Linked DNA regions of Homo sapiens. The protein of the gene in region 1 purifies or fractionates together with the protein of each later gene. This does not show direct contact. Each region holds a gene or a part of one and is shown in the gene's direction. Other genes may lie near its edges. The genes, in order: MAN1A1, CNTNAP3, PLOD2, ITGA7, CHSY3, SLC2A12 and GAS6.

The links.
Region 2: the proteins of MAN1A1 (region 1) and CNTNAP3 purify together in Homo sapiens (affinity purification with mass spectrometry; one large-scale study listed by BioGRID and IntAct). This does not show direct contact.
Region 3: the proteins of MAN1A1 (region 1) and PLOD2 purify together in Homo sapiens (affinity purification with mass spectrometry; one large-scale study listed by BioGRID and IntAct). This does not show direct contact.
Region 4: the proteins of MAN1A1 (region 1) and ITGA7 purify together in Homo sapiens (affinity purification with mass spectrometry; one large-scale study listed by BioGRID and IntAct). This does not show direct contact.
Region 5: the proteins of MAN1A1 (region 1) and CHSY3 purify together in Homo sapiens (affinity purification with mass spectrometry; one large-scale study listed by BioGRID and IntAct). This does not show direct contact.
Region 6: the proteins of MAN1A1 (region 1) and SLC2A12 purify together in Homo sapiens (co-immunoprecipitation; one large-scale study listed by IntAct). This does not show direct contact.
Region 7: the proteins of MAN1A1 (region 1) and GAS6 purify together in Homo sapiens (affinity purification with mass spectrometry; one large-scale study listed by BioGRID and IntAct). This does not show direct contact.

The regions. Positions count from the first base shown.
Region 1 is NC_000006.12:119,189,262-119,193,589, reverse strand, and holds part of MAN1A1 (mannosyl-oligosaccharide 1,2-alpha-mannosidase IA), read left to right. Parts: intron 1-3,706; coding exon 3,707-3,926; intron 3,927-4,328. UniProt on the Homo sapiens protein: Involved in the maturation of Asn-linked oligosaccharides. Progressively trim alpha-1,2-linked mannose residues from Man(9)GlcNAc(2) to produce Man(5)GlcNAc(2).
Region 2 is NC_000009.12:39,099,165-39,103,492, reverse strand, and holds part of CNTNAP3 (contactin-associated protein-like 3 isoform 1 precursor), read left to right. Parts: intron 1-777; coding exon 778-996; intron 997-3,342; coding exon 3,343-3,582; intron 3,583-4,328.
Region 3 is NC_000003.12:146,071,509-146,074,958, reverse strand, and holds part of PLOD2 (procollagen-lysine,2-oxoglutarate 5-dioxygenase 2 isoform 1 precursor), read left to right. Parts: intron 1-1,606; coding exon 1,607-1,672; intron 1,673-2,293; coding exon 2,294-2,398; intron 2,399-3,450. UniProt on the Homo sapiens protein: Forms hydroxylysine residues in -Xaa-Lys-Gly- sequences in collagens. These hydroxylysines serve as sites of attachment for carbohydrate units and are essential for the stability of the intermolecular collagen cross-links.
Region 4 is NC_000012.12:55,694,402-55,698,581, reverse strand, and holds part of ITGA7 (integrin alpha-7 isoform 2 precursor), read left to right. Parts: intron 1-5; coding exon 6-199; intron 200-555; coding exon 556-644; intron 645-759; coding exon 760-887; intron 888-1,035; coding exon 1,036-1,131; intron 1,132-1,304; coding exon 1,305-1,366; intron 1,367-1,513; coding exon 1,514-1,683; intron 1,684-2,149; coding exon 2,150-2,299; intron 2,300-2,944; coding exon 2,945-3,060; intron 3,061-3,611; coding exon 3,612-3,804; intron 3,805-3,886; coding exon 3,887-3,967; intron 3,968-4,059; coding exon 4,060-4,139; intron 4,140-4,180. UniProt on the Homo sapiens protein: Integrin alpha-7/beta-1 is the primary laminin receptor on skeletal myoblasts and adult myofibers.
Region 5 is NC_000005.10:130,183,350-130,187,512, forward strand, and holds the end of CHSY3 (chondroitin sulfate synthase 3), read left to right. Parts: intron 1-879; coding exon 880-2,442; 3' UTR 2,443-3,285; downstream 3,286-4,163. UniProt on the Homo sapiens protein: Has both beta-1,3-glucuronic acid and beta-1,4-N-acetylgalactosamine transferase activity. Transfers glucuronic acid (GlcUA) from UDP-GlcUA and N-acetylgalactosamine (GalNAc) from UDP-GalNAc to the non-reducing end of the elongating chondroitin polymer.
Region 6 is NC_000006.12:134,003,668-134,007,995, reverse strand, and holds part of SLC2A12 (solute carrier family 2, facilitated glucose transporter member 12), read left to right. Parts: intron 1-1,061; coding exon 1,062-1,184; intron 1,185-4,328. UniProt on the Homo sapiens protein: Insulin-independent facilitative glucose transporter.
Region 7 is NC_000013.11:113,822,766-113,826,607, reverse strand, and holds part of GAS6 (growth arrest-specific protein 6 precursor), read left to right. Parts: intron 1-3,057; coding exon 3,058-3,233; intron 3,234-3,842. UniProt on the Homo sapiens protein: Ligand for tyrosine-protein kinase receptors AXL, TYRO3 and MER whose signaling is implicated in cell growth and survival, cell adhesion and cell migration.

The DNA.
Region 1 (4,328 bases):
GCCGTTAAAGTTTTTGCATGGTTTAAACCTCAGTTAAGAGTCACATATCTGAAAAAGTAGTATTCTTTGATAAATATGAATTCTCTCCTTAGGACCACAATTTAAATTATGCAGGGGGAAATCCTGAATTTGTATTCTGACAATTGCCTAAGTTAAAATTGCCTGAGAAGACAGACAGTCCCAATGGCTACCTCCATGTGAAGTAAACTTGTCCCCAGAGATAAATGGACAGTACTCTAAGGAAATCCACACATAAAAATCTGAACAAACTCATATTTCAGGGAAGATCATTAATAGTATCAAAGATTCTTTACAGTGGAGAAGTAAGAGGCAACAGTTGAGTGTTGAATTGCCTACCATGTGCTAAGCTGTGTGTTAGGTAGCTCCTTTAAATGAAGCGGTGGAGTTGGGTTTTTTTCTCTCTCACAGTACTTGAGATTATTACCCAGTTTTACAGATAAAGTTGCTGTACCTCAGAGAGATTACATGTCGAACCAAAATTAAGATTAAAGTTTGTCTATATCAGCACCTGTTCCTTTTAACTCATCCACTGTGGATTTATTTGTAAGAATTTCCATTCTACACTTAAATCTTCATTTACTAATTTGCAAGCAGTAAGTTAGTAAGGTAAGTTAGAAACTACTTAAAGTCTCTAGGAGGAGGCTAGTATAAAAGTAAACTAAGAAACACCTCCAGTTAAGCCTCAATCAAAACCGAAAATAAAGTTAGAAAGTAAATAAAGTTAGAAAGAAAATTACTTTATCTAAAATATTTGTACTCTTCAGGAACAAAATTTTTTAGTGGAATCAGGTGCTTTTGCGATTAAGTATTTTATGTGGTAATACATATATTCTTTTAATATTATTATCAAGGCTTCTCAAGTAGTGTTGTAAAATAGTGGCTCAGTCCTCAGAAAAATTTTATTTTTCTTGACAGCTTAGAAATTTTTTAATAAAGTGTTAATTCATAGGAAAAAAATGGAAATTTGTAATCCCAAAGATGTAGCCATTATAAAATTGGTCTTTCTAACAAGAGGTCTGGGTTATTTTGACATAGGCGTACTTTTTTATTTAAATATAAATGCAGCTTGCTTTGTTCTGGTTAACTACACTGAGTATGACATTGGTTTCCTTTACAAGTCTTCACTACTTCACATGTAGGAACCAGAAGCGCCTTAGTGAGAACGTTGGCCTACATTTGGCACAGCCTTTATAAAGGCACATGATTAACATCAAAAGCAAACTAGGATATGATCCACATGGCCTCTTTTAGGTTTATTTTTCCTCATTGCTGTGAGGTTTCAGATTTTAACCTGGGGAGTTCTCCATATTTTATAGTTTCCATTCTGTCATCCTCTAATTACCATACTGGCAGACATTTTAATTATTCTAATCTTAAATTGGCCGTCTAAGATCTTGATGTTCAAAAAAAGACAGCTTTAAAATATTATTTGAAATATTTTCTTCCTAATTCCTAAAACCATACCCACACAACTTTTAGTATATTGTATTCAGACAAATCATTGACAGGAAAATCCATTAAGAACAAATGAAGTCAAAGTGTTTCCTGCTTCTCTTAGTAGTAAAAGCTAATTTTCAATCCACTGTATATTTTCAACTTAGAAAGCAAAGCTAGAACAACTAAATTTCTGTTTTGAGAAGTAGCATTGTCTTATACAGCAAAGTTTATTTCTGCTAAGTTGTACTTTAGAAGATTATTGTAACCAAGGGGAGGATGCTGTACACTATTGTTCTGGACAATTGATTACTGAAGATATGGCTACTCTGTTGTAGCTTCAAGTAGATTTTGGGAAGCATTTAATCCCAGAGTGATATGTTTTATTTGATTATTTTAATAACAAAATATTTTGAGCTTTCAACTGGCTATCATGGCCCTATCTGGAGACTACACTAGGAACTCACAATGGCAAATGATACCTGGGCAGAAGACATATCAGACACTTACGATTCTGAAGGCTTCATCAAACCAGTTTTTTAAATCAATTATACAAGGATTAAATCACAAAATATATAGTACTCTTTTTTCTAATCAATTATCTGTATCCTTGACACAGTTTTTTCAGATCTACTAAAGACTATCCTTCTTTGTATTTATTTATATTTCCCATGGCCACACAAAATTATTGCTTTGAAGGTCTTGGAATTTCATTGTAGTTTTTATTAGGAGGTAGCAACTTGGTCCGAATCATGCCAGAAATACTTTATTTAGGATCCATAACAGGGTAATAATGTTTCTCTAATTCATCCTCAAAAGCTACTACTCTTGCCATGTAGAAAGAATAATTTCTTAGGTGATGAACAAGTATCTGCTTGAAGGACTTTATTGCAATTTGTGTTATGAGAAGTATAAATAGCTAAGATGTTCAGTCGCATAAAATAAGAATGAAATATTAATGTAATAACTAAACCATCAATAACATTAGCTTAACCACGGTTAATGAGCACAGTAATATGTTCATTTATTTCTTACCATCTTGGTTTCATTCGTTTATTTCTAATAAAGGTAGGAAAGGTTTTAGCTTCCTGTGTGTTCATTTTCATTCATTCTTCTCTATCACAAGTTTTTTTCTGTGTCTATTATTCCCAAATGTGCTTCCTAACAAATCCCTCTCTCTTGATAGCAGTGTACAGGTATAGACACAGTCATGTCCTTTTTCCTTCCATGAAGTAATTGTGGGGCAGTGGGGAGAACATTTTCTGTTAGAGTAATTGGAGATTAGCAATGCCAAACACACTTTATTTTTGCTTTTTAAAATATAAGGCATATTTTACTTACCTGTCTAGTTTAAGAGAATATCAACAGACCTGGGATAGAAATAAAAGATGTTTTATAAATCATTTTTGTAAACATTATCATTTCTCCCAAATTTAAAGATTTTTCTGATTTTTAAAATATATACATTTATTCATTATATAATAGTGTGCTTTTTAATAGAAGTATTAGAGAGGAACTTGATTCAAGCGTCACCACTTTGGAGATGTAAATGATAATTATAAATGACTCTTATCAAGTGCCACTTGCATTAGTGACTGCTTTATAAACAAAATGTGGCAGAGTCGTATCAGGAGATCCTGTTGTTCCCATTTATGGATTAGGATGCTGAGATTTAGAGATATAGTAAGCAAATTGTTCACTCCCACAAATTAGAGATAGTGTCAGAGCTGGAATTTGAAGCCAAGTCTTCTGGCCCCAGAACACCTCCTCTTTGCCACTCTATTTTGTTATCCCTCCAAGCCTACAGAAGTGAAAGGAAGAGTTCTGCCACCATCCTGGATCTCATGCACAAATATGCTGTGTTCTTCATCCACCTTAGGGCCTGGGCTGTGTTATTTCACCACTTATGGAAATGAAAATGTACCAAACCAACTATTACTGCTGCACAGTGGCCTGTCTTTGGGAAGGAGAAAGTTTTTTGAATATGAGGAATACAATGTTTGGTCACAGAACCAAGCAAAACCAAATGTGCTGGCGCAGCAGTGTTAATTCTGACTAATCAAACAAATAAGGCATAAACTAGAGGAGGAATACAGAAAGCAATAGCATGTAATTTCAGGTTGAATGGATTTTTAACACCAAACTCTGATTGTCAGGTGTATTCTATTCTTTTTTTTTTAATGTTGGGCATATTTTTAGTATAAATTTGAGAAGAGATTACAAAATGTTAAAAAATAAGTGTTTTTCACAGGCTATCGAGACTCATTTGATCCGCAAGTCTAGCAGCGGACTAACTTATATCGCAGAGTGGAAAGGGGGCCTCCTGGAGCACAAGATGGGCCACCTGACCTGCTTCGCGGGGGGCATGTTCGCACTCGGGGCTGATGCAGCTCCCGAAGGCATGGCCCAACACTACCTTGAACTCGGGGCTGAAATTGCCCGTACTTGTCATGAATCATATAATCGAACATGTGAGTACATGTTATTCTTCATTTATGGTCTATTCCCACATGCTTTGATTTAATGCAGTTTTGTCATTGCTGCCCTCAAAAGACTATCCGCTCTGCCTATGAAGCTTGATGATCGTGATTAATGTCTCAAAGGAATGTATATTTTATTTTAAAAGGCAATGCTTTTCTTCCTAAAAATATCTACCTTTAGTTTACCAAGAAACAAAAATCCAGGCCATAAAGAGTTAAAGCCAGCCTAATTTACTGACTTCTGCTTTTGCCAATAACATTGGGCAAGGGTCTCTATCTCCCTGCAAAGAGAAACTTAGCATTTTATTAACCATTATTAATCTTCTCCACATCCCCCATGAAACAGATCATGAATCCCACTCCCTTCTTATAAAATAGGAATTTGAAACACAA
Region 2 (4,328 bases), on another chromosome or scaffold:
CTCCTGCCTCAGTCTCCTGAGTAGCTGGGACTATAGGCAGGCACCACCGTGCCCAGCTAATTTTTGTATTTTTGGTAGAGGTGGGGTTTTCCCATGTTGACCAGGCTGGTCTTCAACTCCTGGCCTCAAGTGATCTGCCTGCCTCGGGTTCCCAAAGTGCTGGGATTACAGGTGTGAACTGCCACACCCAGCCAGTAATCATTTTTAAGAGAAAATAAAACAATGAAGCATGAAGCACGTAATAATCCATTAAAATGTCATGCCTTCCCTAGAGTACAGAACAGCAGAGCCAGAGCTTTAAACCAAACTCATCACATTGTTTACTGAATTCCAAAAATATTTGACCAGACATATTGTTTTTTATGTACCCAAAGCTTAATTTATGACTGTCAAAATTTACATTCAGTGTTTATAGAATTAGATGAGACTTTGAGCCGTTTGTAAATAAAATTACTGAAACCTCAAAAACAAATACTATTTGGTATTCTAGCTATAGGTACATAGCTATGGGTAGTCCAGCTATGGGTACATATCTCTACTATTTAGGACTTAACAAGGTTGAATTGTGAACTCTGAGGATAAATATGTTAAAATCCGTTCTGTTTTCCTCCAGGATACAGATTTATTCTGCCCCCACCCCAACTCACAGTCCCGTTTTTCTGCATCGCCGTCATTATCTCCTTCCATCCTGAGCGTGCCTTCATGTTTTCCTGTGTCTGCACAAGACTCAATTTTCTGTGAATTTGCTTGAGCAATATTCATATCTAATATTTCTAGCTCCCACAGAAGTGACCTTTTCCTTCGATGTGGGGAATGGACCTTGTGAGGTCACGGTGCAGTCACCCACTCCCTTTAATGACAATCAGTGGCACCACGTGAGGGCAGAGAGAAATGTTAAAGGAGCGTCTCTTCAAGTTGATCAGCTTCCTCAGAAGATGCAGCCTGCCCCTGCTGATGGGCACGTTCGTTTACAGCTCAACAGCCAGCTCTTCATTGGTGAGTGCTGGTGGTTTATAACTGAATTTAGTGTGAGTCCAGAGAGGGACCAAAAGAAAATAAGAACTGTGATGTACTGAGAGCAACAGTTGCCAACAACAACTACTGCTTATTGGTACTATTTGCTGATAACCTGGTAGGTTCCAGGAGCTTGCTGTGTGCTTCTTATTTGACATTTCTTTTTTTGTTTGTTTGTTTTTGTTTTTGTTTTTGTTTTCAGACAGAGTCTCACTGTGTCGCCCAGGCTGGAGTGCAGTGGTGCAATCTCAGCCCACTGAAACCTCCACCTGCCGGGTTCAAGCGATTCTCCTGCCTCAGCCTCCTGAGTAGCTGGGATTACAGGCGCAGGTGCCACCACGCCTGGCTAATTTTTGTATTTTTCATAGAGACACGGTTTTACCATGTTGGCCAGGATGGTCGTGATCTCTTGACCTGATGATCCACCCACCTCAGCCTCTCAAAGTGCTGGGATTACAGGCGCGAGCCACCGGGCCCTGCAGTATCTCAGTGTTTAGGTATCAATGTTTAGGTATTGTCATCTGTTTACAGATGAGATAGCCAAGCCTCAGAGAAGTGGAGTAACCAGCTAATGAGAGGGATCCCAGGATAGCCGACCCCCAAACTTGAACCATTCACATTGCAGAGGATTGGCATATGTGACAGCTATATTTTATCAACACTATTAGTGAGATCATTAGACATTTTTATCCATTCCTTCAGTTTCACTTCTCGGTGGAGTTAGAGAGCTTGTAATTGGGACAGAAGTCCTCCAGGGTCCACTCAAAACCAGATCGCAGGATACCCGCTGATTGGAAGCAGCACTGCGCACCTCCCCCGCGGCCAGGCTTCCAGGAGCCCACTCCCGGTTTTCCTCGCTGCTGTTCTCACTTCTGGGGCTCTCTCATCACAGGCTCCTTGTTTATAACCTGGTCTGGCTCATCTGTTCTTGCACTCCATTTATTTAAAGGTGATAGCTCTGGAAGTCTTTCCTTTAGTTTGCTTACTTACTGTTTTATCACTGTTGTTTATTTTTCCATATTGCTTTTGAAACTATTCTAACTTAGGAGCTACACAGATTAAAGCTCTCACTTGTTCATTTCTTAAGTGTTTTAAAGTGAATAAGGATGCAATCTAATTAAAACTGGACTAAATCACAAATTATCATCCAACCTAATTTACAGGGAAGGGTAGATACAACTTCCAGGTACTAAATGCTACACGTGAACCCACGTATGTATGTGGATGTGGATGGGGTGTTATACCATGACTTCCTAAAACCTAGCTTCAGGCGTGGTTAGCTCTTCTATTAAGGTGCAGTGAGGCTTTTTCAAAGGACATGAAACCATCAAACTACTGGAAAGGAGGACTACACGGAGGGGTCAAACCAAGAACTTGATTTTCTCACTTGTAATCTTGGAGATTATTTAAGGGAATGCCTAGAAACACAATTAGCGTAAAATTCACCTAGAATCAGCATTCATTGCGGTGGATGAATCACTGGCTTCAGAATCACCCACAAAGCTGATTGATAGTTCAGATTTGGGGCCCCCACCTTAGGCCCACCGAATTGGAATCTCTGGGAGGAGGCTAAAAACTGCATTTTCCAGAAACTCTAGGTAATTTCCATGCTCCTAACATTGAGAATTGTCGCCTTCATAATGGTGTTTGTCACTACACAGGTGTTGTAAACCTCTCTAAATGGTTTCTTCAGCATTCAAGTTTGACATGACAAAATGTGCATGCATGCAGTATTCAATTACTGTTTAGCACTGTACCCTCTGAGAGGAGGAGATCCTGGGGTACGGTGTCACCCCTTCCAACTTCCCCTCCTTTGCCTCTCCATTTCCTTTCACACTTTATTTTTAGAGTCCATCCAAGTAAGAAATTATCCATATATATTTTTATTATTGTGAAAAATTTGGAAGTTCATACCTAACCATTATAATGCACATTCTTATTCATAAAGAAATTAAAATAATGTTTGATGAATACACATTCTTATTCCTAAACAAAGTAGAATAGTGTTTGATGTGGTTTATATTATGTATTTTGTTCTTTGTGAAGGAACTAAAGTGAAATTCTTTCTTACCTGAAGTTAAGGAAATGTTTTAGGACTATTTGCCAGACTCACCATGTTTGAAAGTTATGTAAATAAGTGTTTTATTCAATGTCATTTAAAGCTTCATGTCTCATAACAGTTACATTTTCAAAATTGTGTATGTTCACAAAATTTTTTGACACATTGTGATTATTGCCACTCTCCATAAGGCCTGAGTTTGACATGGACATAAAATCCTGAATAAAATACCAAGGAACACATTTCTATTTGCAGTGTTTCCGTTGTAGGTGGAACGGCCACCAGACAGAGAGGCTTTCTAGGATGCATTCGGTCTCTGCAGTTGAACGGGGTGGCCCTGGATCTGGAAGAAAGAGCCACAGTGACGCCAGGAGTGGAGCCAGGGTGTGCAGGACACTGCAGCACCTATGGACACTTGTGTCGCAATGGAGGGAGATGCAGAGAGAAACGCAGGGGGGTCACCTGTGACTGTGCCTTCTCAGCCTATGATGGGCCGTTCTGCTCCAATGGTAAGTGTGACCAAGGAGCAGGTTATAGGGAAAGTACATGAAACTTAAATAACATGAAGAATGCTTCTGGCATTTGATATTATAAAGAGAGGATAAGATTGAATTATTTGAAATGGAATAATTTCTGTACCAAATTCCTCTATTGAATTTAGAAGGGATATGACTGTTTTTGAAAACTTAAGGCTATCAGTCCTCTCTGGGTTTCTTATTTAGAAGATCTCTGGGTTACCCCTAGCATCTGTTCAATGCTAATCCTCTTGAAATAATTTGGTTTTCAAAACTCTGTCCTTGTACTGTTCTAATTTTAACATCAGTAAACCATCATTGTTATTTTTGTTTTTAATTTTTAGAGACAACGTATTGCTATTCAAGCCTCTCTGTTGCCCAGGCTGGACTTGAACTCCTAGGCTTGAGCAATCGTCTTACCCATTGTCCCTTGTGACAATGACTTGAAGTGATTCAAAAGGCCTTTATAGAAATGTCTTTTCTTATAAAACAAGCATACTAACTAGAAGGGGAAAATAATATTTAAATATTGACAGTCATTAACAGGATCACTCAAACACTGTGCTCTATGATGTTTGACTCTTCTTAGAGGAGTGCAGTGGGGTATCACACAGCTTCTGCTCAGGTACAATCATGTTTTCAAAAGAAAAGGGCTGGGCGTGGTGGCTCATGCCTGTAATCCCAGCACTTTGGGAGGCCAAGGCAGGCGGATCACGAGGTCAGGAATTCAAGACCAGCCT
Region 3 (3,450 bases), on another chromosome or scaffold:
AAGTAAGCAATGAAAATATCAGAACTGAGTAGGAACAAGTTTTCTTTCCATGGCTTTCTTTGTTAAAGCAGCCTGATTAATATGCCTAGTGAGGGATACCCCATAGCAAAATGCTTATTGATTATCCCATTATCAGAATTTCTAAGAAATTAATAAAGTCACAGTTTGCTCAATGATTTGAAAGGTGATCTAAAATGAAATGTGAATACTAATGCCCTAAAATAAAATCTTAGGGGATTTTTTTTTTTACTTTAACTTGAAGAAAAATCAGTATTGATGCACAGGAAAAATGCTATAGGTAAAAGTTCTTAAATCTTATGGATGATTATTCAATTTCTTGCCACATTTTAGAATCAGAAAGCTAATTAATATTAGAGGGAATAATGAGATAATATAGAAATCTGATCCATATATACTATATAAACATGAAATTTATTAAAATTTTGAAGATACCTTTGTTTCCTCCACATAAAAAATGTTTGAGTTACATATAAACAGATATGCAAAACCAGTGACATAAATTATGGTATAAATATTCAGCCCCTAAAATCTAGCCTCAAAAGATGTATTTAAGGCAAATATCTTTTAAAACATCTTTTGATTGGAATTATTTTGAGTCTGTGTCTCACTTCCTCCCTGCTGGCTCTCTGTATTTGCACTTTGTAAAGAGAAAATTAATAATTTCTAGAAATATTCTAAATTTCAGAAGATATCTTTTTGGATATTTATATTACTCCATGTATTAATAATATTTTAGTAAATATCCATATTTGAATAAAGAACTTGTCCCAATAAAATAATTCTTTAGCTTTTGTTGAAAAAAGTTGAGATATCTTTGTGTGTGGATTTTATGCCAGAGATTGGTCAAAAAGAATCAAATTCATGGATTAGAATAAAGAGAAACCATTTTTTAATATAGAGCCCTAACCCTTAATTTTAGTAACTGAAAGAAGTGCAAGTGCTAGTAAACTCATGATTATTCCTTGATAAATATTAATAACTGAAGTGAAGGCAGAAATTTTAAAAACTCATTTAAAAAATCAAATTTAGAGTAATTTACTATAGACATATAAGACAGACCCTAGTTAATTAGTTCACTAATTCATTTTTACAAATACTTGTTGGTAGAATTTTGCTCCTTGTCTTTTACCTTTAAGCACACCTTTATTTACCTACTCTGTGTATATATTAAAATACTGATGGTCCCCAACTTACGGTGGCTTTACTTAGGAATTTTCAGCTTTATGTTGGATTTATCGGGGTACTGTGTGTTTTTAACCTCCCACGGGTTTATTGGGACATAACCCCATCGTGAGTCAAGGAGCATCTGTAAAATGTGTAAATCTATTCACTGTAAGATTACTTAAGTTTTAAAATCCTGAGGTACAATATTTCATAAATAAAAATTTTGTATTTCATAGAATGACATAAGCATATTCAGAACCAGGCAAAGATTAGGCTATATACTGTGATTTCTGAAAATTACTATTTTGTCCACTATACATAATCATTTATAAGTTGAATAATTTCTAAAATGCATATGCTTTATACTTTTCAGTGAAGTATTTATAAAGATATTTGTTTTAATATGTACTTCTTTTTATAGGACTGGAAGGAAAAGTATATAAACCGTGATTATTCAAAGATTTTCACTGAAAATATAGTTGAACAGGTTTGTATTAATGATTACAAAGTATAGAAAATTTTGCTGTTATTTTCCAGAAGAAATATTATTAATACTACTTTCACAGAAGATGTGAAAGTGGAGAAACTACCTTTTAGGTAAAATTTATTTGATTCAATTACTGATTAAATAGCATTAAGGAACATACAGTTGTAAAATGTAGAACATAGAAATTAACATTTTAAAAGCATGCCTTTTTAAAAAGCATGCTCCTATGTGTCATAGCTTTCTGAAACCACTAAAAATAGAAACTGTTGACAGATCTCTGATGTAGAACTCTTGCAGTGAAAGCTTATCTTTGGAAGAAACTGGGCTGTCTTTCTGGAAGAGTCTTTTCTCAGAGACATCTTTGAAACATGAATTCTCTTTTAGCTTAGTGTTCAAAACTATTGTTAATACCTAATTTTTGAGAATGTAAGATGTCATCAATTCTGAGGTGCACCATTATTTATGTACCATGAGAAAAAAAATACTGTCAATAAACCATGACAGAAAACTATGTTTCCTAGTCATACAGGATTTTTTATTTTACACATATTAAAATAACTATTTTAGACTATTAAGACACAGAAGTTATTATGTCTTCTAACGATGATGCATATTTTATAGCCCTGTCCAGATGTCTTTTGGTTCCCCATATTTTCTGAAAAAGCCTGTGATGAATTGGTAGAAGAAATGGAACATTACGGCAAATGGTCTGGGGGAAAACATCATGTAAGTTGTAATTTCACACTAAGAACTAAAATGTATGTGGGGGTTAAGTAGATACTCAGAGAATTCGGAGGGGTTATATACTTTTTCTCATATGTCTCTGAGTTCTAGACTTAGATAAATTGGCTAGCCAAGGCTCTGATTTCAGTCTACTTCTCCCACCAACCAATTTTTTTAACACTTAAGTAATTTCATTAGTTTGGGCGGGTTTCTCATTTATGCATGTAATTACACTGGATGTTCCCTAAGGGTCGATGTCCTCAGGCCAGAGTTTGTTAGGTAACACATGTCTTTACAGAGTGATGTCACTCTTTTCCAAGGCCACTTTTTATTCCTTGCGTTTTCACAGTGAGCTGTGGTGAAAATTCTAAGGCAAATGTTATCTGGCTCTGAAAACTGTTTTTGTGTGTAAAGATAGGAAGGAGGGATCTGAGTGCCTTAGGTGTAATTCAGTTTTGCATTTGCATTCAGTGTCAAAGACTTGGCAGGAAATACTACTGCCAGTGGTTAGATGTGTTTCTTTCCCTCTGAGAACAGACATGCCATTTTAGCAGAATACTCTGGAATATTACTGCCTCTGCACGGTTATGTCCCCCAGGTAATGAGCTGATAAGGGAGAGGGAAGCTTAAAGTATAAGGAAGAACTTAAGTTAGTGGGTGATGAAATAATGAAAAGCAATCATTCAAAAACTTTTGAGTGTTACAAATAGAAGTGAGGAAGGGCGGGGAAAGCTTGTTTTTAGTGTTTGGTAATACAGACAGCAGATATGCTAAGTGTATGCTCATCAAGCAGCTGAGACTGCCTAAAGGGTCACTGTAAAAAAAGACTCATTTTTAAGAAAGGATGTGAGGGCTTAGGAAGTCAATTTTATTTACTTTATAGCTAAACTTCACATATACATTTAAGAAGTAGGAAAGGAGTCTACTGACCTTACATTACTTTGTTTCGTCATTGTATCATTGACAAAGCTGTTACCTAAGTTATTTTGATAATTTTACAGTTAAAGCAGATGATATACCACATTGGAACAACTGTTATTTTTATTGTCTATTAT
Region 4 (4,180 bases), on another chromosome or scaffold:
CATAGCTGGCCAGACCTGATAGTGGGTGCCCCCTACTTCTTTGAGCGCCAAGAAGAGCTGGGGGGTGCTGTGTATGTGTACTTGAACCAGGGGGGTCACTGGGCTGGGATCTCCCCTCTCCGGCTCTGCGGCTCCCCTGACTCCATGTTCGGGATCAGCCTGGCTGTCCTGGGGGACCTCAACCAAGATGGCTTTCCAGGTGTGACGGGGAACTGGAAAGGCTCAGGGAGGGAGGGGCCACAGGAGGGATGGGGAAGCCCCTCAGAGGTCAGGGTGTGGTCTTCTGAGGACTCAGGGAGAGAGGGTCCCTGAGCTTATGTCTGAGCTGTACCATTTACCAGCTTTCTGACCTTGGCAAGTTCCTAACCTTTTTGCGTTAGTAATATCTGCAGGGAGTGGCCAAGAGGATTAAAGATGATGTATGTAGAGTGCCTGGGATTTTGTAGCCTCTCAATAAAATAGAAAACATACCTGAGTGACTGGGGGGAGTTGAGGCCTGGATCTTGTCTGCAAGGCCCCCAGCCAGCGTGACTGCCTTTTCCCTGTGCCCTGCAGATATTGCAGTGGGTGCCCCCTTTGATGGTGATGGGAAAGTCTTCATCTACCATGGGAGCAGCCTGGGGGTTGTCGCCAAACCTTCACAGGTGAGGGGAGTCGCTGGGATGAGGGAATGGGTGTGGGTGGAATCAGCAGAGGCATCAGGGGAGGCAGAGGCCTGCGGGAGGTGGGATTGAGGGAGGCTGACAGCTGGTTCTCTAGGTGCTGGAGGGCGAGGCTGTGGGCATCAAGAGCTTCGGCTACTCCCTGTCAGGCAGCTTGGATATGGATGGGAACCAATACCCTGACCTGCTGGTGGGCTCCCTGGCTGACACCGCAGTGCTCTTCAGGTGAGCCCCTCTCAACCTTTTCCCTCCCTGAGGCCGTCAGCCCCTCCCTGTGACTCTGACCCCGACCTCAGTGCCAAATCTAATGCTGAAGAGTGTTTCCCAGCCTCATGTTCTCATGTTTCTTGTGCTCTTGACTCCCCAATCCCAGGGCCAGACCCATCCTCCATGTCTCCCATGAGGTCTCTATTGCTCCACGAAGCATCGACCTGGAGCAGCCCAACTGTGCTGGCGGCCACTCGGTCTGGTGAGGTGGGATCGGGTGGCACCTGGACCCTGGCAGCTTCCCCTGCCCTCCCTTTGATCCTTTATCTCCCCAGTTTGGGGCTGGGGCTGTGACAGGATGTGACAGATGGGGTGGGGGTAGGGGCCTTGGCCCATCAGCCTCGTTTGGCTCAGGAGCCACCTTTGCCCCCGCAGTGTGGACCTAAGGGTCTGTTTCAGCTACATTGCAGTCCCCAGCAGCTATAGCCCTACTGTGGGTGAGTGCGGTCCCCCCTCTGTGGCTCGCCCTTTTGGGTTTCCCAGGGAGGGGGGTCACTTCGAGGTGGTAGAAGAGCACCCTTGGAATGGGGTGAGCTGGAGCAGCTCTGCAGCTCAGCAGCTCCTCCTTTCCCAACATGCCACAGCCCTGGACTATGTGTTAGATGCGGACACAGACCGGAGGCTCCGGGGCCAGGTTCCCCGTGTGACGTTCCTGAGCCGTAACCTGGAAGAACCCAAGCACCAGGCCTCGGGCACCGTGTGGCTGAAGCACCAGCATGACCGAGTCTGTGGAGACGCCATGTTCCAGCTCCAGGTGGACACTGACCCCTTGGCTTCTGAGGGTCATTTTCATGGCTCCATCTCTTTTCCCTGATTCCTCTTAGCTGCTTTTTCCCGAGCACACTCGTGCCTCCTTCTAAGACCTAGACACGTGGGAAACCTGTCTTCTGAGCTCACTTCCTCCTCATCTGCTGCCCTCTCCTGTCATTTCTGCACTCCCTGGAGGAGGAGGAGGTGCAAGGGGCTTCATGTCCCCTCTTCCAGCTGAATGGAGGAGGTGGCAGCTTTTATCATCACATCTGGTCCTCAAAGCCCTAAAGGTTTCCCCTGTCCCCTACCCCAGTCTTTCTCCCTCCTCCTTGCTCAGTTCTCCACCTCTCTCATTCATCTCCCTAATATTCTTTCCAAGTTTTAGAATTGGTCCTAGGTCTGGCTGGGGCACTGAGCAGGGCTGAGGCCTGGGGATTGTTCCAGTGAGGAATAGACCTTCCTCTTCCTAGGAAAATGTCAAAGACAAGCTTCGGGCCATTGTAGTGACCTTGTCCTACAGTCTCCAGACCCCTCGGCTCCGGCGACAGGCTCCTGGCCAGGGGCTGCCTCCAGTGGCCCCCATCCTCAATGCCCACCAGCCCAGCACCCAGCGGGCAGAGGTGAGCATGGGTTCTGGTTTAGCCCAGGGGGAGGAGCTGGGAGGGCAAAGATCATGGTCCCTCCCCAGTGACACCAATTCACAGCTCACAGAGCCCTTTCACGTATGCTACTCCAGTAATTCCTCATATCTCTAGGTGCCTAAATGACCATGTTCCTAGTCAAGGGGACAGAGCTCCTCTACTCCATGTAGTCATTCAGGGGGCTCAGGTTGATGGGATTCTGTAATCTTCAAATGCGGCCTTCAAGCTCTTGAAGTCACATTCATCCCATTCAGCTGGAAGGGAGAACATGAGGCCCCTTGCTTGCATGGTTTTTATGGCTGGCCCAGAAGTGGTGCCCTTGACATCTTTTCCCGTTCTAAATCCGGAACTCAGTTACATGCATGTGAGCTGGGGCAGTGTGGCCCAGCTCTTGACTTGCTGCTAGTCTCTACCATGGCATGGTAGTGCTCCCATCACTACCATGATGAGAGGACCCAGAGGAGAGGACCCAGTTCAGGATCACATGGCTAATAAGCAGCAGATCTGAGAGTTGAGGACAGGTTGTTTAATCCTGTGATACTCTAACCCACCATATGCCATGGTGACAGGTTTGCCCCCTGCCTTGCCCCCTAGGAATGCCCCTTATCTCATGTCTCTCCCCAGATCCACTTCCTGAAGCAAGGCTGTGGTGAAGACAAGATCTGCCAGAGCAATCTGCAGCTGGTCCGCGCCCGCTTCTGTACCCGGGTCAGCGACACGGAATTCCAACCTCTGCCCATGTGAGGGGGGCAGAGAGCAGGGTGGGGGTGGGAGGGCAAGAGTTCAAGGATTGAGAGAAAGCCCTCTCAGGAGGACCAGTCAGAGGGAAGGGCTGAGCCTGCAGAAAAGGCAGAAGGTGGAAGAGGACCTGCCGATGGACTTGGAGACTGAGATGAGGGTCAGTGATGGGGCCACGGGGGCTCCCATGGCAAGGAATAGCAATCCTTCACAGTACACTAATAATATGCAGTCTACATACATCTCATTGGTTAGTCTTCAAACCTCTGTGAGGTAGGAATTATATTAGTCTCATTTTATAGATGGAGAACTGAAGCCTAGAGAGGTTAAGTTACTTGGCCAAGGTAAGTAATGGTGGAGCTGAGATGAGAACGGAGGTCCCCTGACTCCCAGTCGTGTGTACAGAGGCCTGAGGCTTGGACGGGTGTGATGGGGACCTGGGGTGGGAAGAGAGGCTCAGGGAGTGAAGGCAGGTACTGGGGGAGCAGACTGGGCGGGGGAATGGTAGGGGGAGGTGTTCAGAACTTAGCAGGAGTGGGGTCTGACTCTCCAGGGATGTGGATGGAACAACAGCCCTGTTTGCACTGAGTGGGCAGCCAGTCATTGGCCTGGAGCTGATGGTCACCAACCTGCCATCGGACCCAGCCCAGCCCCAGGCTGATGGGGATGATGCCCATGAAGCCCAGCTCCTGGTCATGCTTCCTGACTCACTGCACTACTCAGGGGTCCGGGCCCTGGACCCTGCGGTGAGGACCTGGGGGCAGGATGGGGTGGGGTCTTGAGGGGCTCCAGTAACCCAGACTGACCTTGCCTTCTCTCCCATTCCAGGAGAAGCCACTCTGCCTGTCCAATGAGAATGCCTCCCATGTTGAGTGTGAGCTGGGGAACCCCATGAAGAGAGGTGCCCAGGTTGGCACATCTGCCCTTATCCCTACGTGAGTAGCCTCTCCATAAGCCCGTAGACCACCCCTGACTCTAATCTCTTTCCACCCTTGGCCTAGGTCACCTTCTACCTCATCCTTAGCACCTCCGGGATCAGCATTGAGACCACGGAACTGGAGGTAGAGCTGCTGTTGGCCACGTAAGCCAGGCGGGGCCGGAAGGGTGAGGTGGGGGTAGTCA
Region 5 (4,163 bases), on another chromosome or scaffold:
CTTTACATCAGGAGTGTAGATCAGTATAGTTTCCGTTTCACCTTATCTTACCAAGAACTTACTCGGTAAAAATAGTATATCAGGATGCTAAATGAAATTTACGACTCCCCTGGCAAATAACTTCTTATTGCCATTCCAAACAACAGGTCATTGGTTTTCCTCCTTAGGGTGAATCCTTATTTTGGAAGACTCATGCTGTGTCCATTCTGTCTCTCTCCTTCTCCGTGATCTGTTATGGGGTTATGGACACAGTCAATTGTTGTTTTATGTATAGCTAGAGGTTCATTTGCAATATTTGAGCCTATGAACCTGACATTTGTGCTCTCACTCATATATAGAAATCAAAAAGTTGATTTCATAGGACTAGAGTGTGGAATGTTGGTTACCAGGGGCTAAGCCAGCTGGAGAGAGGGGTTGGGGAGATTTTTGTCAAATGATACCACATTTCAGTTAGATAGGAGGAATAAATTCAAGTGATCTATTGAATACATGATGACTATAGTTAATAACTATATTATATACTTTAAAATGCTAAAAAAAGATGATAAATGTTCTCACCACAATAATAACTATGTGAGGTAATGAATACATCAATTAGCTAGATTTACTCATCCCACTATATGTATATTCTCTATATATTATATATATATACTTCAAAACATGTGGTACATGATAAGTACATGGAATTTCATCTACCAATTACAAATAATAAAACTATTTTAATTTTAAATAATATAAATATTACAAACCATTTTTGTTATGAAATACCATACCAAAAATGTATTAACATTTTCATTTAGATGCTTTAGTTTATCGCTGGTTTTCTTTTTAGATAAATCTTTTAAAATTAACCCTGATTTTTTTAATTTTACTTTTCAGATGCAACAACTGTTCCATGAAAATTATGAACACAATCGGAAGGGTTACATCCAAGACCTTCACAATAGCAAAATCCATGCAGCCATAACACTTCATCCCAACAAAAGGCCTGCATACCAATACAGGCTGCATAATTACATGCTCAGCCGCAAAATTTCTGAACTTCGCTACCGCACCATCCAGCTCCACAGGGAAAGTGCCCTGATGAGCAAGCTCAGTAACACAGAAGTGAGCAAAGAGGACCAGCAGCTGGGAGTGATACCTTCTTTCAACCACTTCCAGCCTCGGGAGAGAAATGAAGTGATAGAATGGGAGTTCCTGACAGGGAAGCTTCTATACTCAGCAGCTGAGAACCAGCCCCCTCGACAGAGCCTCAGTAGCATTTTAAGAACAGCACTGGATGATACCGTCCTACAGGTGATGGAGATGATCAATGAGAATGCCAAGAGCAGAGGACGGCTCATTGACTTCAAGGAAATTCAGTATGGCTACCGCAGAGTTAACCCCATGCACGGGGTGGAGTACATTTTGGATTTACTCCTTTTATACAAAAGACACAAGGGAAGGAAACTGACTGTGCCAGTGAGACGTCATGCCTATCTTCAGCAGTTGTTCAGCAAGCCTTTCTTCAGAGAGACCGAAGAGCTAGATGTCAACAGTCTTGTGGAGAGTATTAACAGTGAAACTCAGTCATTCTCCTTTATATCTAATTCTTTAAAGATATTATCTTCTTTTCAAGGTGCCAAAGAAATGGGAGGGCACAATGAAAAGAAAGTACACATTCTCGTTCCTCTCATCGGAAGGTATGACATTTTCTTGAGATTCATGGAGAACTTTGAAAACATGTGTCTTATCCCAAAGCAGAATGTAAAGTTGGTCATTATCCTTTTCAGTAGGGATTCTGGCCAAGACTCCAGCAAGCATATTGAGCTGATAAAAGGGTACCAGAACAAGTACCCCAAAGCAGAAATGACCCTGATCCCAATGAAGGGAGAGTTTTCCAGAGGTCTTGGTCTTGAAATGGCTTCTGCCCAGTTTGACAATGACACTTTGCTGCTATTTTGTGATGTTGACTTGATCTTCAGAGAAGATTTTCTCCAACGATGTAGAGACAATACAATTCAGGGACAACAGGTGTACTATCCCATCATCTTTAGCCAGTATGACCCAAAGGTAACAAACGGGGGAAATCCTCCCACTGATGATTACTTCATATTCTCAAAAAAGACTGGATTTTGGAGAGACTATGGATATGGCATCACCTGTATTTACAAAAGTGATCTTCTAGGTGCAGGTGGATTTGATACCTCAATACAAGGCTGGGGACTAGAAGATGTAGATCTCTACAATAAAGTCATTCTATCTGGCTTAAGGCCATTCAGAAGCCAAGAAGTAGGAGTGGTGCATATTTTCCATCCAGTTCATTGTGATCCTAACTTGGACCCTAAGCAGTATAAGATGTGCTTAGGATCCAAGGCAAGTACTTTCGCCTCAACCATGCAACTGGCTGAACTCTGGCTTGAAAAACATTTAGGTGTCAGGTACAATCGAACTCTCTCCTGACAGTCCAGGCAACACATTTTGCCTTTTTTAAGGGGAGTTTACCTCATTGTTGGTTGTTGTTATTTTTATTGTATTATTGTTATTTTATTATTATTATTGTTATAATTTTATTTTGTTGTCCTGGTCTTAAACTACTCTTGGTTGTCTTCCTAAGGGTGTTTGTTGACCTCAAGCAAGAAGAGTCTGCAGTTCACTGATGTTTCAGATTTCTACTGAAGTCAATATGTTATTACTTTTATATAACTTTATTTGAGATTGAGTTAAATCATAGCAATCAAATGACTTTTGAAACGCATTCATCACAAGAGACAGCTTAGAAGAATGTTCTCTTGGGGCTTAAAGATGCAATATCGACTTTTATTTGGTTTCTCAAATTCAATGTGATACAAATATTTACTGGTGAAAGGTACCACAAAAGTGCTTTATGCTTCCTATGGGGAAGGGACTCTGTAACATAAACTTGAGTTTTGTAATTTATACAAGGACTTAAATATATAAACAATAATTTTCTTCATCTTTAGAATTTTTAAAGTAAATGAATACCTATGATTGTATGTTTATTTTTTAAAAAAAGTTTTAAAAATTGAGGAGTTTTGTTCCACAAGCAACCGGTACTGGCTACCCTGGTCTTATGACAATTATGAGCTCCTCACAACTGTCTGCTATAAATGCGAATGAACTTTATTTTCTCAAGGAAATATGATTTAATTAAATATTCATGTACATTTTAGAAGCTTTATGAAACAATGTCCTTCATTTGCTGGCAAGAAGATAAAATATGACAGAACCTGTTTATTTAAAATAAAACACAGGTATAGCAGTATTCTTTTTCAAAAACACTGACAAGGTTTTGTTGTTTCCTTTTATTCACACTTGATATGTTTCTGTTCATATTCACCAAAACATGCTTGCTGAGCAGCTTGAAAAGTTAACAAGGGATTATGGTATGCTGTTTGTTTTATTATACTGGAAAACCTAGCCTTCATAAGTGATTAAACTGAGCAATTTCTTTACTCAATAATTTACCATCTGGGAGAAACATCCTTCCTCAATCTCTTCAGCTTTGGGATCAAGCTGACCCAAGAACAGTTCAAAAATTGCCTTTAATATGGGTTGGTAGGTATCTCAAAAGTCACTGGAGAAATTATTAATATGACATCAATTTTATAATTATTAAAAATACGTCAGGAAATATCTCATTTAGTTTTACATATCATTCTTTCTTTGACCTGGATCAGTGGTGTCCAGTTTCTAGAAAAGCATAATTGGATTAAAGAAGTGTAAGAGAAAATGAACATCCATCCAATGGAGTGTCATTAAGGCATATTATAAAATCTTATTTTGTAAATAGGTAATACATTTGCATGGTTCCAAAATCAAACAAAATTTTTAAATGCCTAAAGCTGTTGGCCTCACTCCCCATCCACCCATATCTGTCACCTGACTACACATGACCATTGTTTGGGCTGTGTGAGTGTTTTGTGCATGTCTTTCTAGAGTTTCTGAAGCACACATTTTACTTTTTTAACCCTCTATACACAAAATGCAGCATATTATACATATTGTTGTGCACTTTGATGTTCTGTTTCTACTTAATGGAAAAATAATTTGCATCAAAATTGATTTGAAAGTGATTGTTGTAAATTGTTGCCATTATTTTTAACTGAATGCCATGAGGCCACATATCATTTGCCTTGGTGATGTATTCCTTACATGTTGAC
Region 6 (4,328 bases), about 15 Mb from region 1:
GACATGTATTTATTAATTAATAAATATTTATTGAGTCACTATCAATAAAGCACAATGACAAAAAAGCATGAATTCCAGAGACTACTAGGGATAATGCCACGTTTGTCACTTAAGTGCTCTGTGACCTTGGCAAGTAACTCTTCTAAGCCTCAGTTTCCTCTTTGATAAAAGAGGTTTCGTAATAGTTCCCACCTTGTAGGGGTTTGTGAGGATCAAATGAGATGAGGTTGTAAAAATGTTTGTAAAAGCCCACAGTAAGAACTTCTGGCTGTTTTTTATTAGGCAAACTGGGCTTGATAGGCTGTGAGCAGAAGACAAGTTAATTTGCTCCTTTATTGCCCCATCTGATCCCATCAGGCAAGCCCCATAATGTTCCCTGTCACTCTCAGATAATAAAAAGTCCTCTGATGAGTTTTGGTGCCAATAAGACTCTCCTTCTAGAAATTCAAATGTTTAGTCTGGTACAATAATCAAATCTTGGAGCTCTATTTAATTTAGAACTTCTCTCCATCCAGCTTGCTTCAGGCCAGGACGCCCAAGTCAGAGAAGGGAGAGTAGCCGGCTTCCTCATGCCCACCTGGCTCCATTTCCTACCCACTCATTAGCTGTGATTTCTGACTCCTCCAAGGTCAGGGGGAGAGAGCTGAGGAAACAGCCCAGTCCTACAGCAGGTACACCTGGGCTCTGGCACTGAGGCTTCTGTGCTTGGCAGATGTCCAGAGCTGGCTCTCTTGTTGCTGCCAGGCAGGTGGCCCCACCTCTGCCCCTGCGGTTTGCATTTCTTGGGCCTGTGACAGATACCAGCACCTCATGCCCCTCACCCTATGCATGGGGACCATGGCCCAGCTCTCCTAATGTTTCTGTGAATCCTTTCTTCCTTGGCTGGAGGTGAGGAGGCAGCACGTCCCTTTACTGTCCTGTTCTGCTGAGGTAGGAAATGGTGCTTCCCAACCACAAATCCCGGCAGGATGAGGGCAGGGAGAGATCAGGGTGCTGGCACTCAGATTCAATGGGTTTTTGCTAAATGTGCTGTCCGCCACCCACTCTTGCCTTTCTTCTAGTGCCCTGGCTGGTGCTCAGCGAGATCTTTCCTGGTGGGATCAGAGGACGAGCCATGGCTTTAACTTCTAGCATGAACTGGGGCATCAATCTCCTCATCTCGCTGACATTTTTGACTGTAACTGGTAAGAAGTCTTTGTTTTCCTCTAATGTCTTTGGTCCTCGTAGGACAAATGTTAGGGAATCACACCCACCTAAAGACCATTTTTTCGTGGAAATTTTCAAACACACTTAGAAGGAGAACGGCCATGACCCTGAAGTACCCATGACCCAATTTACAGTTTTGAATGTAAATCTATTTATAACCCCACCTGCTCTTCCCCTACCCAATTATTTTGAGTCACATCCCATATGCAATGTTGTTTTTTCTGAAAAATTTCAGCATAGACCTTTGACATTCAAAAACATATAACTACAATGTCATTATCACACTTAAAAATATAATCATCCCATAGTATCAAACACCTAGTCTGTGTTCATGTTTTAATTGTCTTATAATTGCTTTTTATACATGATTTGAATCATGACCCAAATACATAACTTACAAGTCACTGAAATATGTCATAATTTGTAGGTTTTGTCTCCATCTCCTCCATCTCCTCACCCCCACTATACCTTATATTTTTAAAGAAATTAAAAATCTATTAAAAAACAAATGATTTATTTCATAGAATTTTCCAGTCTGAATTTTGTTGATTATAGTCATGTCACGTGCCCCTCTCTGTTTCTCTGTTTTTTTTTTTGTTTTTTTTTTTTTTTTCCGATAGTCTCTCTCTGTTGCCCAGGCTGGAGTGCAGTGGCATGAGGCATGATCTCGGCTCACTGTAACCTCCGGCCCCTGGGTTGAAATGATTCTCTTGCCTCAGCCTCTGGAGCAGCTGGGATTACAGGCACACAGCATCACACCCAGCTAATTTTTGTATTTTTAGTAGAGACAGGGATTTCACCATGTTGGCCAGACTGGTCTTAAACTCCTGACCGCAAGTGATCCACCCACCTCAGCTTCCCAAAGTGCTGGGATTACAGGCACGAGCCACCACGCCTAGCCCTCCTCTCTGTCTTTTATGTTTCTTGTAAATTGCTATTAGATTTAGATAGAGGCTTGAGGAGAAAGAGAAACCAATCCACAATAACAAAAGTCATGTTTAGGTGTCAGGCAGAATTGCTTGTAATAATAACAAACTTTTATTTTCAAAAGGGATCTCATCAAATTTAAGGATAGAGAGCAGCAGAAGGGAGATTCTTTTTTTTTTTTTTTTTTTTTTTTTTTTTTTTTTAAGACAGAGTCTCACTCTCTTGCCCAGGCTGGAGTGCAGTGGTGTGATCTCGGCTCACCACAACCTCCATCTCCCAGGTTCAAGTGATTCTCTTGCCTCAGCCTCCCAAGTAGCTGGGACTACAGGTGCGCACCACCAAGCCTGGCTAATTTTTTTGTATTTTTAGTAGAGATGGGGTTTCACTTTGTTGACTCAGGCTGGTCTCGAACTCCTGACCTCGTGATCCACCTGCCTCAGCCTCCCGAAGTGCTGGGATTACAGGCGTAAGCCACTGTGCCTGGCAGGGAGATTCTGTAATAAGGTCAGGCTCATTGTTACTTTCCACTGAAGCCTGAAATTCAACTGCATTGTATAGAAAATTTGAGGATCCCTATGTCGGAAATAAGGCAAGGCATAAAAAAATGTTACAAGCAAAACAAAAAATGGCTGTTTGTGTGTTCCATTCAGCAGCCCTATCTAAAGGAACCACAAATTAGATTTATATATTATAATAAAATAACCCAATATTAGGGATCAAATCAGAAACAGAAGCATTCGCCTTGTTTTCCTAGCTCCAACTTGTAAACATGAAGAAAGTAAGAAGGGAAACCCTTTGGGGATTACAAAGAATGATAGAGCTAAAATAAATAAATAAAGCCTAAATTTATTTTTTTAAAAACGATAGAGGCTTGAGGAGATTTACATGTCATTTTTTGGTGAACTCTGTGGCAGCTGCTGCCGTGTGAACTGCCAACAGGAGGCACATGAGGTCTGGTTGTCTCGCTGTTTGTCATTGTTGGCCTCCTTTGATGATCATTTCCCAGACCTACTCATTATGTCATTCCTTCTCCATTTTTATCTGAAATACCTCTCTAAAGAGAAATTTCTTCTCATTAGCTATTTGGCTATCCTGAAGTGTGGATCATATAAGAAAGGTAAAATACGTGCTTGAAACTTTCTCTTTATTTTCTAGTTTTCAAAATAATGTGGCAGTTCCCCAGTATCCACGAAAACTGACCAATGAGTCGGTTTCTCTTTATTTCATATATAGATGAGGAACATGCAGCATGACTACAATCAAGAAAATCCAGACTGTGGGAAGTTCTATGAAACAAATAACCTAATTTCTTCATTTCATATATATTGTCTTTATAGATACAATTTTCAAAAATGGATGTTTGCTGAAAAGCATGCATATATATAAACACATATATACACATATACACACACATACATACATATATATTTAGTATATCCACTTTTGGAAATTAACCTTTGGGGTTACTATTTAAGCGTGGTTTGGGTTTTTATATAAAATTTTCAAATGTTCCTATCCTACCTTTTGAGAAGTAGCTCAAGATTAAAGGAAACAAAGAAACTGGTCCTACTCAGATCACACACATAAACACATGCCCTCAACCTTCACATGTGCACACACGTACTCAACACACACACACCCTCCATCTGCTATTTGATGTGGAGAAAGAGAAATATAAAAGAAAAAATGGAATTGATGAGGGATGGAAAAGATGACACACATCTCTGGGAGGGCTATAGCTAATACACTGGAGGAGCTAGTGAAGCTTTAGAAGTTCCGTATGGGCTTTTAGAACAAATGTAGGAAAACAGATCCACTTAAAAACAAAAAGCCTAGAATGCTCTAAAACCTTTAGATGACATTTAATTGGAATGCTTGACATTTCCTACTTATTTTCAAAAATAAATTTTCCAAGTGTAGGACACAGGGATCTAAAAGACGTGAGGTTCTACTTGGCAGTAAGCCCTTAAACACCAACATTTTTTATGCAATTTCAGCTGTATCAATAAAAGCAGACTGTTCCAGATAGACAAATGTACTCTGCAGTGATCATGACACAATTGTAGCATTGCATTCAGCTCTGAGTAAAACATCTCGAGAGGGCCATTTAAAAATTGCAGTGTGTTCGCTGAAGGAGGGCAACCTGAATGGCGAGGGCAGTAACCTATGCTGTGGGAAGAATGGTTGAAGAGCTC
Region 7 (3,842 bases), on another chromosome or scaffold:
GCCGGGGAGAGAAGGTGCCTGCGAGGCCAGCGCCGGGAGGCCGGGGAGAGAAGGTGCCTGCGAGGCCGGCGCCGGGAGGCCGGGGAGAGAAGGTGCCTGCGAGGCCGGCGCCGGGAGGCCGGGGAGAGAAGGTGCCTGCGAGGCCGGCGCCGGGAGGCTGGGGAGAGAAGGTGCCTGCGAGGCCAGCGCCGGGAGGCCGGGGAGAGAAGGTGCCTGCGAGGCCGGGGAGGCTGGGAGCCTTACAGGGTCCTTTGCAGAAAGTCCGGAGACAGCACAGCCTTAGGACTCGTCCAGGGGCACAGAGAAGCTCTCGGTAACATGGTGGACACCGTGGTCACCGATGACCCGGTGAGACAGCTACAATGGGAGGTGTGTAAAAACAGCCGTGAAGCTGCCTGGGGGACAGTGAACCTAGGCCTGAAAAAGGGAGGACAGGGTGGATGTGAGCTGCTGGCCCAGTCCTGTGACGCCACGCTGCCGCCCTCCCCAGTGCAGGCTCCGGGGGTGCTGCTGTGAGGATAGTGTTACTGCTCGGCCCCACCCTGCCTCACATTCCCACCCCACGTGGGCCCCACTGGGGCACCACAGCCCTGCCCTATTCCTGGACACCGAGCCGTTTATGGTGAAGCCCCCACACGCACAGAGGGCAGGCAGCGCCCCCTCCGTCAGATCTCAGGGCTGCCGGCCCTCAAGCACCCAGCAGGAACCCCAGGTTCAAGGGGATCCACGCGGAGCAAAGGGGAGGGTCCTGCCCCGTCCTGAGCCAGATCCAGTGTCACCGTCTCCCCCCGGGTGTCAAAAGCGTGACCGTGTCAGGAAAGGCATCTGAGAAAAGCGCCATCTGCCACTGGCTGGACTGACTGTGCACACGCGTTCTCCCTCAGTCTTGATTTTTGGACTTCCAAATCTAGAGCATCATAATGTTTGACACGAAATCATGTCATATGAAATGCTTAAATCCTTTTTCCACTTAATATCATACACATTTCTCAGGGGTAACCTTATGCAGGCATCACAGGGGCCATTTCCAGTGACTGCCGGCCGCGTCTGCCGGCCCTTTTTGGTCTATCCGGACAGAAGCAGTTACAGCTCCATGCATTTCCAGTGAATCTCAAACTATACCAGTAACGTCTCTTACAAGACAGAGGAGACTTGCTGGGAATGGTAGTACTGGCCTGGCTCACTCTGCAGCGACTCTGCTGGGCTCAGGCTTGCAGATCTCCGGGTCTGTGCAGCCTCCATGCAAGGGGCCACGTGGAGCCGGGAAACCTTCCCGGGGAGAGCAGAGGCCGGTGCCCTTGTGAAGCCCCGATGGCCAACATGTGCCTAGCCTCCTGTCAGGAGCTTCCTTTTTTTTTTTTTTTTTTTTTTTTGAGACGGAGTTTCGCCTTTGTTGCCCACACTGGAGTACAATGGCACGATCTTGGCTCCACCTCCCAGGTTCATACCACAACCTCCGCCTCCCAGGTTCAAGCGATTCTCCTGCCTCAGCCTCCCGAGTAGATGGGATTACAGGCATGCACCACCACACCCAGCTAATTTTGCATTTTTAGTAGAGATGGGGTTTCTCCATGTTGGTCAGGTTGGTCTCGAACTCCCGACCTTAGGTGATCCACCCACCTCAGCCTCCCAAATTGCTAGGATTACAGGCGTGAGCCACCACGCCCGACTGGGAGCTTCCATTTTAAAGAACACCATCATCTCTCCCTTCACAGGTTATGGGAAGACCGGCAAACAGGAGACTTTTTGTTGTTACTTTTTGATTCTGTTGCAATATTTTTGTTACTTTTTCTGATTTTGTGTGTTTCGGTGCCATAAATGGTTGTTGAGAACTGATGTGGCGGGTACCAGCTAGGGACAGGCAGGACAGGCGATGTGGGTTTCAGGCGTACACAGCCCCGTGGGAAAGAGACAGGGAAACCAGCACAATTCACTCTGACCCCAACCTTGGCCTGCAGTGCGAGGCGCCCAGTCACAAATGTGTACACACAGTGATTTGGGGTCCTTTTTCCTAAAACAGCTTCTTTATCAGGACTTTGGAATTCTGGGTGAGATAGAAACACTGAAAACAGGGCGGAAGTTTTTTCTTCTGGCTTCTTAGTCCACGGAGGGCTCAGCGTGGAGAGGATATGCCGTGGCATTCTCCCTGGGAGACCACACATGTTCCCGACAGCTCAGACCCCAGACCGCATGTGCTCCTGACAGCTCAGACCCCAGACCGCGCGTGCTCCTGACAGCTCAGACCCCAGACCGCAGGTGCTCCCGACAGCTCAGACCCCAGACCGCGGGTGCTCCTGACAGCTCAGACCCCAGACCGCGCGTGCTCCCGACAGCTCAGACCCCAGACCGCGGGTGCTCCTGACAGCTCAGACCCCAGACCGCGCGTGCTCCCGACAGCTCAGACCCCAGACCGCGGGTGCTCCTGACAGCTCAGACCCCAGACCACGCGTGCTCCCGACAGCTCAGACCCCAGACCACGGTGCTCCTGACAGCTCAGAACTCAGACCGCGGGTGCTCCTGACAGCTCAGACCCCAGACCGCGCGTGCTCCTGACAGCTCAGACCCCAGACCACCGTGCTCATGACAGCTCCTGTCCGCATGCTATCTTAAACTCTCAGCCCCCACTGGGCCCTGTGCTGCTACCTGAAAGCTGCAGGTGAGATGCGAGGCACGAGGCCACGCACGCTCTGAGGAAGGAGCTGTCAGGCGCTCCTGAAACAAGAGGACATCGGAGGGAGGCAGGGACAGGCCTGCGTCCCATGGTGCACAGCCTGTGGCCCCTCAGACGGGCCTGTGTGGCCTGGTGGTCACCTACAGGGCATTTGGAAGTGGGGTACTGGTGTGGCCAGGGAGAAACAGCCTGGGGGTCCCCGGTGCCTCTGGGCTCCGGGCCAAGATCTGAACCAGTCTGTTGAGTTTTCCATCACGTCCCAGATCCGGGGCTGTCTGCACAGCTTCCCACCCCGGCTGGGACTGCATCTCTCGAGGCCCTGCTCCGACCTCACTGTGGCCTCTCCACCGTGCATACCACCCTATAATGCACCGCTTTCATTGCAGTGCGGACCCCTCTGGACGTCGGGACTGAATCAACCTGGGAAGTAGAAGTCGTGGCTCACATCCGCCCAGCCGCAGACACAGGCGTGCTGTTTGCGCTCTGGGCCCCCGACCTCCGTGCCGTGCCTCTCTCTGTGGCACTGGTAGACTATCACTCCACGAAGAAACTCAAGAAGCAGGTAGGGCCTCCGCCACCCAGGGCGTCCTGACCGGCTCGACCCACGGGTACGTGGGCTGCACTCCCTGGCAGGGGACGAAGGGGGCCCGCGGTGGGATCCCCAGGGACCCCCAAAGCCTCTGACCAGAGGTCTGATGAGCCAAGCCCGGCGTGGGCCACGCTTCGGGCTGCGGGGGTTGTTTGGACACCAGGTCACCGCCACACAGCTGAGGGGGCCGGCGCCTGCGAGCCACACTCGGCTCACAGTGTGGGAGCTTTTCCCCTGTTCGGTTGGGCAGATGGTGGCTCACAGCAATCTGAATTAGTCTCTGGTGTTTAAGTCAGATGATTTCAGCAACAAACTCAGTTTTCCAATTTCCCTGGAAAAGTCGGATCTGTGACCTTGGCCGGTCCCCCAACAGCGTCTTTCCGTGGGGGACACCGGGTGGAGCTGAGTGCAGCTGCCCCTTGGACAAGGTCCCCCCACCCCCGGTCCTCACAATAAGTCAGCTGTCCTGGGCTGGGGGACTCATGCTGTTTTCCCCACAGAACAATCAAGAGGTGACAGAAACAGCTTTTATTCTCTCGCTCGTGTGCTAAGGAGGGAGACATGGGTCAAACCAGAGAGGCT